Regions from separate parts of the Homo sapiens genome. Here region 1 is linked to region 2. Evidence: fine-mapped expression QTL. Tissue or cell type: esophagus mucosa. Region 2 holds a variant in brackets; the other region holds the start of a gene. All regions are shown on one strand. Distances are between the middles of the regions.

Region 1 (5,380 bases), 29 kb before region 2:
GCGTTCCCTTCATGGATCCACTGATCAATGTTAGCATCACTGAAAGGGATAATGACCATGTACCCCTGGCATAGTGCAGTCAGCAGGAAGTACGTGGTACCACCTATGAAATACTCTTCCTGAGAACTGACCAGGACTCTAATCAAGCCTCTAGAGGTAACGAGTTAAATTAATCCACTTTCTTCAGCAAATCAAAATCATTTATTAAAAAGGCACATGAGGTCAGGCACGGTGGTTCTCACATGTAATCTCAGTGCTTGGGAGGCTGAGGCAAGAGGATCGCTTGAGCCCAGGAGTTCAAGACCTGCCTGGGCAACATGGCAAGACCTCATCTTTATAAAAATACAAAAAATTAGGCAGGCATGGTGGTGCACGCTTGTAGTCCCATCTACTTTGGAGGTTGAGGTGGGAGGCTCACCAGAGCCTGGAGGTCAAGGCTGCACCAATCCTTGATCATGCCACTGCACTCCAACCTGGGTGACAGAGTGAGACCCTGCCTCAGGGAAAAAAAAAAAAAAAAAGGCAGAGGGGTTGCTCTGTGTGTGTGTGTGTGCGCGCGTGCACTGGGGGAGTGTTTTAGATGGACACTTCAGAGGCAGAGTGAGCACTTTGTGTGGGACAAATAAAACTACAGAATTATTTTTAAGGCATCTAAACATTCTGACTATTTCATAATGAGGAATAACTGCTCAGTTTTTTACATATATGGTTATGTGAGAAGTGTCCACTTTTTAAGAGTATATGGGGATGAAGGGACATGGTGTCTGGGACATGGTGTCTGGGGTTTGCTTTAAAATACTTAGGAAAAAGAGGCCGGGTGCAGTGGCTCACACCTGTAATCTCAGCACTTTGGGAGGCCGACGCAGGCGGATCACTTGAGGCCAGGAGTTTGAGACCAGCCTGGCCAACATGGTAAAACCCCAATATTTTTAAAAATACAAAAATTAGCCAGGCATGGTGGCAGGTGCCTGTAATCCCAGCTGTTCGGGAGGCTGAGGCAGGAGAATCGCTTGAACCTGGGAGGCAGAGGTTGCAGTGAGCTAAAATCACGCCACCGCACTCAAGTCCAGGCGACAGAGCAAGACTCTGTCTCAAAAAAAAAAAAAAACTTGGGAAAAAGAAACATAGATTAGAAAGGTAAAAGAATGGAAAGAGAAAGCAGAAGTGCCCTAATCTCAGTAACTGTGGAGTCTGGCAATGGGTGTGTGGAGATTCCTTATGCTATCCTCTCTACTTTTGCACATTTTAGAAAACTTTATATGGTAGGGAGATGTTATTACCATGACATAGAAAATAAGGTCCATTCTTGGTTTTTTGTTTATTGGAGTTTTTTTAAAGAGTCAGGGTCTTGTTATATGGCCCAGGCTGGAGTGCAGTGGTGCCATCACGTCTCACTGGAGCTTCCAACTCCTGGGCTCAAGTGATCCTCGCACTTCAGCCTCCCAAGTAACTAGAATCACAGCCACGCACCACCACACCCAGCTATTTTTTTTTTTTCTTGTAGAGACCAGGTCTTGCTATGCTGCCCAGGCTGGTCTTGAACTCCTGGCCTCAAGTGATCCTCCCACTTCGGCCTCCCAAAGTGCTGGGATTACAGGCGTAAGTCACCATGCCTGGCCTATGATTGTTTGTAGCAAAAGTTTAAGAGGGAAATGTGAGAAGTTAATGTACTCAGAAACTCTTATTTCCCTACTCTTAGTTTACAGGGTTGATTATTTGCTGTAGCCAACAATAATTAAAATTCAGATGCAATAAGACCAACTGGCAGGTGGGAAGACTTTTAAATAAAAGTTCTCAATTCAACCAACAAATCAGTGAGCCACATTCAGATACACAAGATAACAGAAGGAGGCAGTTGGCCACCTTCTGTCCCAAACTACCCATGCCACGGTCTTGAGTCGTTGGAAATATTTGGTAGAGCATGCTAATAACATTTTCCATAAACTCCCAGAAATCTTAGATTTGCAAAGCCAATGCAACCAGGAAATTCACATTTCTGAAATACCAGGATGCACTTGGCCGTACGGGGGACATTTGTAAAACAGAGAAAACATCCCAGTTAACAGCATCGGCAAGACACCTATCCCTGCCACTTGAATGGCAGTGCCAACTTCCTGCACATCTGGCTTGAAGGGCATTTGGAGAGATGGCAGGAAGGTGATCCCCTGTGAGTTTATGACGGCATCGTAGTTCTGGAGCACAGCAATTAAGTTAAAGACACCAGCAGCAATGTTGAGAATTCCTGAAACAACGAATGAATTGTAGGTGTCCTCCTCAAACATTCTCATGGACATGTTTCTAAGTGCAAACATGTTAAAGGCTCTCCCGAAGAATCCGAAAATGCTGGCAGTCAGTAGGAAGCGTTGAGCCATGGAAATTTCAAAAGGGAGAAAGGTGTCCTGGTAGCTGTATCGGTAACAAAATTTGGTTGTGGTGCTGTTGGTGCGACGCCGGTAAATGCAGACTCTAAATATTCCCACGCAGGCGATTCCAGGGGGGTAGAGCGAGGTGTCTTTCATGTACCATATTCGCCACTCCACGAGGCCCGTGGACGTAGAGGAGAGGATCCATCCTATGGTGGTAAGGGCGAAGACTGAAAATTGGCAGTCGGCACTGTTGCAGAACCAGACCATGGTGGCAGCGCACCCAGGAAACTACAAACAAATACAGAGCATGGTGAGCGGGGGGACCCTGGGACCTGGGACAGCCTCCCATGGGTGAGTAGCGCCAAGAGGGAGGTGTTGTATTGGAGAAAGGAGACACTAGACCCTCTAGATCTGCTGGTGGGAGTGCAGTCTGAGCAAACTTTGTGCAGGGCCGCTCCGCGATATTTCCCGAAAGCTTTAAAATGCACACACCTTCAGACTGGCAGTTCCACTTCTGGGCATTGGTGCAAAGACATGAATAAGGTCGGCCACAAATATGTAGCCACAAAGATGGTCCTCACAGCATTGCTTGTAATATTGGAAACCGGGGAACAACGTCAAGTCCAACAACAGGGCTTGGTGAAGGAATTTATGCTATGTCCACGCGATGGAGCTATACGCCAACATTGACAATACAAATGGAATCATACAAGGTATAAGAGTTTTGTGTGGCTCTTTTCACATGGCACGTTTCCAAGGGTCATCCATGTTGCAGCAGGTATGAGAAGGTTGTCCCTTTTCATTGCTGAATGGTGTTCCATTGTGTGGGTAGACCACAGTTTGTTCATTCATCAGCTTTTGGACATTTGGTTTGGTGCCATGTTTTGGCCATTATAAACTATGCTGTCATGAACACTTGAATATAAAAGTTTGTATGGGCATATGTCCTTGTTTATCTGGTGTAGATGCCTAGGAGTGAAATTGGTGGTTCATATGTTAAGTGCGCATTTAACTTTTTGTAAATTGCTCAACTGTTTTCCCACGTGGCTGCACCATTTTATATTCCCACCAGCAATGATGGAGGTTCCAGTTTCTTCATATTTTCTCCAACATTTGGTATTTTTAATGTTTTTCATGACAGCCATTCTAGTTGACATTCTGTGTGACCAAAAGGGAGGTGTCCGTAATATTTCAAATACAAATTACATGTTTCAAAATAATATGTACGATATAATCATAGATACAAATCGAACTGAAAATCTACATCCTAAGCTATTAGGAGACATTTTTAACTGGGTTTGAGAGATTCTGAGTTTTTTCTAAGCTATTTGGATTGTGAAGGGTCACACACATATAGAAAAGCACACAAGTGTGCAGCTCAATGAACGATGGTGGGGTGAACACCCATGGAGCCAGCATTTCATTTCAGATACACAATATTCCCACTTCCTTGCTTGCTTTCATAGTTTTGTCATCTCAGCATGCATCCCCACACATCTTACTTCTATTTTGCCTGTTTTTCAAAATGGGGATCATACGGTCAATGCTTTTGTGTGACTGGTTTCTTTCACGCAATGTTGTGTCCATTTATGACACTCAGATTGTAATTTTTTAAAGGTGCCTGGCTGTTCAGTATTTTCAAATATTTCTGCAATAAGCATGATTATTTAAAACAAGAAAACAATAAAAAATATTTCACAAAACAGTTGTCTCGGGAAACTTGCTTGAGCCGAGGAGTTTGAGACCAGCCTGGGCAGCATAGCAAGACCATGTCTCCAATAAAATGTTGTCAAGCAATGGAAGATTCATTAGTTTGAGTACATAAATACACTTTACTACCTAGTATATGTTAAAATGAAGCCAATCATTTATTATAATACTTTGCAGATAGTAAAGTAGAAAAAGATTTAGTAACGTGAGAAAATGTCCATGGTGGGTTGGATCTAAAATGCAGATAACAAACTCGTTAGTATCTATAGTAGTATCATCTTATTTTTGCCTATCATAAAATAGGCTGGGAAGACAAAACAAGATGCATCTGAATATTAGGATTACTGGTGATTTCTCTTTTCGTGTCTTAAGGTCTATTACTTTTTTAATTGGAAAAAATGGTGAGCATACAGAGACACAAACATAAAAGTGTATTAATTAATTATTACCAAGAGTAAGGCCAGGCATGGTGGCTCACACCTGTAATCCCAGCATTTTGGGAGGCCGAATAGGGCAGATCTCTTGAGGTCAGGAGTTTGAGCCCGGCTTTGCCAACATGGTGAAACCCCATCTCTGCTAAAAATACAAAAATTAGCCGGGCATGGTGGTGCACGCCTGTAGTCCCAGCTACTCGGGAGGCTGAGGCAGGAGAATCGCTTGAACTCGGGAGTTGTAGGCTGCAGTAAGCAGAGATAGAGCCACTGCACTCCAGCCTGGGCAACAGAGCCAGACTCCGCCTAAAAAAAAAATTATTATCAAGAGTAATAAAAACATGGCTGTCTCCTGACCCAATCTCCTATTTCTTGGAACCAATTCTAGTGGACAAATCAGAGAAGTGGGATCAAAGTGTCTGGGCACTGATGCTCACCAGGGGTGTTGTTGACACTAGGAATAAGAGAAATCTGGAGACAAGTAATATGTGAAGCAATACGGATGCTTAAGTACATTTCATAATTCCAGGTGATATAGCATACTATTCAACCATTTACAATGAAGTCTTCAAAAGCATTTTAGTGACAGGAAATTGTCACTGTTTGCTAAGTGGGAAAAGGATGCAAAAGAATGTATAAATATACATGTTGTTTTATATATATATGCGTTTGTGTGTCTCCTTGTGTGTTTGTGTTTGTGTGTGTTGTGTATTTGTCTGTGTCTCCTTGTGTGTGTTTGTGTCTCCTTGTGTGTGTTGTGTATTTGTCTGTGTCTCCTTGTGTGTGTTGTGTATTTGTCTGTGTCTCCTTGTGTGTGTTTGTGTGTGTCTCCTTGTGTGTGTGTGTTGTGTATTTGTGTGTGTCTCCCTGTGT
Region 2 (5,380 bases):
TTTGTCCAATCAAGCAGGAAAACAGGACCGCTGAGTCATCAGCACCATAGAGAGCTGGGATGTACAGCATGTGCTTCTGGTGCAGGTGCCCAACTCACACTTGCTGAACTAAAGTGAGGCCAACTTCCAGCCCACAGTGACTCACTCAGTTCCGGAGCCACACTTCTGGTGAGGCGGCTTCCCAGCATCTCCAGCCTCCCAAAGCAGGTGGACAGAGTGCCCCACAGATGAGGGCGGCAGAATCAAGGCATGCCGCTTCTGAAATTCATTATATCATGAAAAACAAAGGCATGCGAGCAAAGAATGCAGTTCTCTAAACCTAGGGTGTGACCCAAATTCAAATGGTCCAGATGGTATGATTTTCCTGGTTCTGTGTGGAAAAACCGAACATGTTTTGGATTCTTTATTATTTTTTAAAAGAGGAATGTGCAACCAGAATGAAGCGAATGGTACCGTGTGCCAGATGGAGGGCCCGTAAAAGCCCCAAGACCTAAACCCTTAATTTTCATTTCCCTTTTTAATACCTTGAACCAAAAAGTTACCATCTTCCAGCCCGGAAGCAGTGGCTCACGCCTGTAATCCCAGCACTTTGGGAGGCTGCGGTGGGTGGATCACTTGAGGTTCGAGACCGGCCTGGCCAACATGGTGAAACCCCATCTCTACTAAAAATACAAAAATTAGCAAGGCTTGGTGGCAGGTGCCTGTAATCCCAGCTACTCGAGGGGCTGAGGTAGGAGAATTGCTTGAACCCGGGAGGCAGAGGTTGCAGTGAGCTGAGAGTGTGCCACTGCACTCCAGCCTGGGTGACAGAGGGAGACTCTATCTCAAAAAAAAGTTACCACTTTCTAATTTGAAAATAATTTTCCTTTATCTGAGGCAGGGGGATCGCTTGAGGCCAGGAGGTCAAGGCTGCGGTGGGCCATGATTGCACCATTGCACTCAAGCCTGCACGACAGAGCAAGACCCTGTCTCAAAAATAAATAAATAAGATAAAATGAAAGAGAATGGTGACTAAACTAATTTGACATTGGATCCTATTGAAACAGCAAAGAGACGTTTGTGGAATGGCTCAAGATTAGGACATAGAACTAACAACAGAGGGCTTCACTAATATCACCTCAAATTCCACTGTCCTGAGTGAAAGCTGAACACAAACGCCCTGGGACACGTGGTGCAGGGTCTGCGCTGGGGCAGGATGGTGTGATCCGGATGCCTGCCCCTGCCTGGACACGCACACGCTGTCATTTGGAATGGACTCTCCTACCTTCTTCACCGACAGGTCGTGGTCCAAGTCGCTTCCCGAATCCTCTTCGTGCTCCTGCTGCTCCTGCAGGTCCTTCATCTTGATCAGCAGCTCCGCCTTGGGGGCCGACGTGCTGTAGTAGGTAGAATTGGTGGCCAGGGACACGGCCGCAGGCACGCTGGGCTCCTCTTTCCTGGGTAAAGGTGTGGGAACTTCAATGAGCTGGGACTGTGCACGCAAACAGCCCCTCTGCCCCACCCCCTGGGTTGTGACAAATCAACACTGGTGCTCACGAAAGGACACCAGCCAGGGAGATGAGACAGCCAAAGGGGGAAAAGTAAGTAGGTAACAAGGTTAAAACTAAAAACCATCAACCCTGTCAAATGGATACTCGTAAGTGTATGAAACATAGTTTTTAAAAAAGGCAAAAACTCAAATAAGCAGGAATATCTAAGAATCTCTGCTACAGAGGTGAGAGCACAGATGATCTCTACCAGGAGCCTGGGTTGATGAGGACAAGGACATGTGTGACGCTATCTACAAACACCAACCCTTCTCCCTTCCTCCCAGCAGCCCTGTCGGCGCCCTCCTGCCTGGGTCCACTTGGTCCAGCTGCTCCTCCTTGGCTGTGTGTCATACCCACTCCACCTTCCTACCCATGAATGACGCTGTGCTGGCAGAACATATGTCAGCAGCAGGGAAGATGCCACCACGCATGCCTTTGTGGTCAAGTGGCTGAAGGAGATACGCTGAAAGTGCTACTTACAAAACCAATTAAAATACATTTGTTCAGGCAGGTGTAAATTGTCGTAATTTTTTTTCATTTCTATTTCAAGAGATGGGGTCTTACTCTGTCACCCACACTGGAGTGCAGTGGCACCATCATAGCTCACTGCAGCCTCCAACTCCTGGGCTCAAGTGATCCTCCCACCTCAGCCTCTCGAGTAGCTGGGACTACAGGTGTCTACCACCACGCCTGGCTAATTTTTTGTACTTTTTGTAGAGACTGGGTTTTGCCATGTTGTCCAGGCTGGTATTGAATTCATGGGCTTAAATGATCTGCCTACCTCGGTCAGCCAAAGTGCTGGGATTACAGGTGTGCACCACTGTGCCTGGCCAAATTATAATAAATTTTTTAAATGCAGATGTAAAAAAATTTCAAATAAAGTTTTAAAAAAACATTTCATAAAGAAACACATATATATTCAATCTAAGCCTTCATTCTCATGTTGGCACTAGGGACACGTGGGGGCTGGATGACTCTCTGTGGGGGGGGCCCTCCTGTGCACTGTAGATGTTGAGCAGTGTTCCTGGGCTCCACCCACCAGATGCTTGGAACACCCCTCCCCACAGTGACATTGCCAACTGTCCCCCAGGGTAGACAG[C/T]GGCCCCCACTGAGAACAGCTGTCTTACGAGAAAGGAGACCTGTGGGCATCATCAGAAATCCTGCTGGCCTCAGGCCAAGGCAGCTTGGTGGTCTGCAGTGTGTATTTTCATGTCAGGCCCAAAGCCGTTAACCCTCCATTTCTCTTTCCGGAGGCTCACAAAAAAGCCAAAAAGTGCTAAGCATCGAGGAGCCCTTATGAAAACCCGTCTTCCCCAAAAGCACGCATGAAAACAGAGAGGCAGACCCCCTTCCCTTTACAAGCCTAAGAGATGCCAGGCAGAGTCACGCCCAAGCTGGGAGGCCACGCCTACTCACCTCTCCTCTGTGCTTCTAGGAGAGGGGATTTTGGGGAGCAGCTTCCTCCGTTGCTGGGCTTCTTCCAGGAGGTGCTCGTCTTTGGGGAAGATGCCTTCCATCAAGTCCATAGTGGTTTTGATCTTCACACTGGGATCCAGGATGTCGGCCAGGGACTTATCCTTCCCCACGATCTCCCTGGCCAGCTCCTCCGACTTCAGGTCTTCCACAGTCTTCTCTTTGGCCTTCATGTAGCTGAGCCCTGGAGGGGAGGTGCAGCGGTCTTTCTCGGGGGGCACCTGGGTGCCCAGGGGCTGGGGCTCAGCCGGCTGGGCCCTATGTGGGGCCTCGGGCTCAGCACCCTGCCGCGTGTACAGACAGAAGCGCGAGTAGAACTGCTCAGATGTGCTCAGCGTCTTGATCTGGTCTTTCTCCAGCCCGTGGGGCAGGGCAGGTGGCTCGGCGGGGCATGCCAGGCTCTGGCGGCTCTCCTTCTCTGGCTGGCTCTCCGAGTGCACGATCTTGATGGGCACCATCTTCACCGTGGTGTTGTTGTCCATCACCCGCTCAATTCTGGAAGATGAACAGTCTGCTGAAATCGCAAAGCATGCTCCAGCCACAGACCCTGATTGACGTGTCCCCTGCCCTCCCCTCTGGATGGGAACCTGACTCAAAGGCACTAGCCAGCCACCCAACTCGAAGGAGCCTCCATGATCCCACATCCTGGATGAGGCAGAGGCCTCAAGAAGCTCCCTCTGACTCCTACCTCCGCCTTCCAACCACAGCATCCTTTCTATGCTCAAACCGCCAATGCCACCCCTGAGGCATCCCAAGGTGTCCTCCAGGGGTTCGTGGAGGGCTGTGAGGACTATTTAATACCATTTGTCATTCCGCAGATGATAATGCAAACTTCAACAAGCCCTGTTGGGTTAAATGTTCTTTTGTAGGGGAAGCCTGCAGTGGATGGGCATTTTCCAGGATTCCCATCCGTCCTTAGGTTGGTGCAGGCCCGCGGGTTCCTGCGTAGTTCTCAGGGCCTGGGGAGGGCTCCTCTCCGGAGTGGCCGTGCTTGGAGTCAGGCCAAAGCCCCCCACCACCCCACTTGGGAGAACCTCCTGTGCCATATGCAGGACAGCCCACCCAACACTGTCCTTGTACCCCCCGCCCGCTGTGCTTCAAGCTAGCGTTGCACAGATTTGCACACCAGTGAGATACGATCTCGCAGTAAGCAGCGAGTCATCGGTTCTGTATTACTTCCAAAGGGCACAGTTTTGCTTTTTTTTTAAAAAAGTGTCAGCCAGATGTGGTGGGTCATGCCTGTAATCCCAGCACTTTGGAAGGCCGAGGCGGGTGGATCACTTGTGGTCAGGAGTTCGAGACCCACCTGGCTAACATGGAGAAACCCTGTCTCTACTAAAAATACAAAAATTAGCCGGGTGTGGTGGTGCGCACCTGTAATCCCACCTACTCGGGAAGCTGAAGCATGAGAATCGCTTGAACCTGGGAAGCAGAAGTTGCAGTGAGCTGAGATCAGTGACCTGAGATCACACCACTGCACTCTAGCCTGGGCAACAGAGCAAGACTCCATCTCAAAAAAAAAAGAAAAGTTTCTGGATGAAAGGGACTAGAGAGGTACCTAAAGCATCCCTGGGAGACTGGGGGAGAGAGAACAGGAGGAACAGGCCCAGCAATGCCACAGTCCCTTGTCTGGGGCAGCCCTGCACCTGCTGCTCTCAGCGGCACCGTGCTAGACCATGCTGACCAGGGCCATCTCAGCCAAGAGCTTTTCAGAGCACTGGAGAAGCAGCCCCATATGCTGGTGGTCAGGAGGGAAGCAAAAAGAAACAGGCCAAACTCCACAACCCCAAATTAGGATGTGTTTCTAATGAAGTCAACCCAAAACTGCCCCTACGATGTTACACAAATGTATCCAATTTTCCACAGCAGGAGGGCAGCCACGATGCTCTAAATTTAATGCTGTTTTTCCCTCTTTCACTGGTGACTGGGAATGCAGGAGGGCTCTTTCCCTATCAAGGCAGTGGTGCTCAGGCTGAGATGAACTAACTGCGTATTTTCCTCCCTCTCTCCAGTAGGGTTCAGCAACATCTGATGTGTTTTATCTAGGGACTCACAGACACCTCACAACTGCTTCCTCATGAAGACAATTTACAAAGTCTAACTGTGGAAAATACCATTTAGATAGGTCAGACTTATGAAGGAAAACCCTGGCTAGGCACAGTGGCTCACACCTGGAATCCCAGCACTGTGGGAGGCTAAGGTGGGAGGACTGCTTGCGCCCAGGAGTTTGAGACCAGCCTAGGTAACACAGTGAGACCTCCCCACCTCTCTGTTAAAAACATAATAATAATAAATAATAATAATAATAATAATAATAAAAGAAGGAGGAAAACCTGGCCACCTTATCCAAGCACCAGCAAACGCAGAACCCTCTGCAC

Alleles and levels. Alleles are on the strand shown, and positions count from the first base shown. SD is a standard deviation of normalised expression in the study named.
With allele T in place of C in region 2, the expression in esophagus mucosa of the gene that starts at base 2,633 in region 1 is lower (small effect, 0.26 SD a copy in GTEx).

What was found. PIP is the estimated chance that this variant, and not a neighbour inherited with it, causes the effect. A credible set is the group of variants that fine-mapping cannot tell apart.
Region 1: it holds the start of CLDN34, and the variant in region 2 is the best candidate, but not a certain one, in a credible set for the expression of CLDN34 in esophagus mucosa (GTEx, PIP 0.53).

The regions. Positions count from the first base shown.
Region 1 is chrX:9,964,611-9,969,990 of GRCh38, reverse strand. It overlaps CLDN34 (claudin 34), which reads right to left and starts at 2,633. Exons shown (of 1, transcript NM_001195081.2): 1 at 1,639-2,633. The coding sequence starts at 2,633. The coding sequence ends at 1,989.
Region 2 is chrX:9,935,251-9,940,630 of GRCh38, reverse strand. SHROOM2 (shroom family member 2) reads right to left here. Exons shown (of 10, transcript NM_001649.4): 7 at 2,946-3,497; 8 at 1,265-1,436. Among named protein-coding and RNA genes, the nearest start is that of CLDN34, 29 kb to the left of the region's middle. RefSeq lists an enhancer at 69-1,268. The variant C/T (reference allele first, on the strand shown) is at 2,629.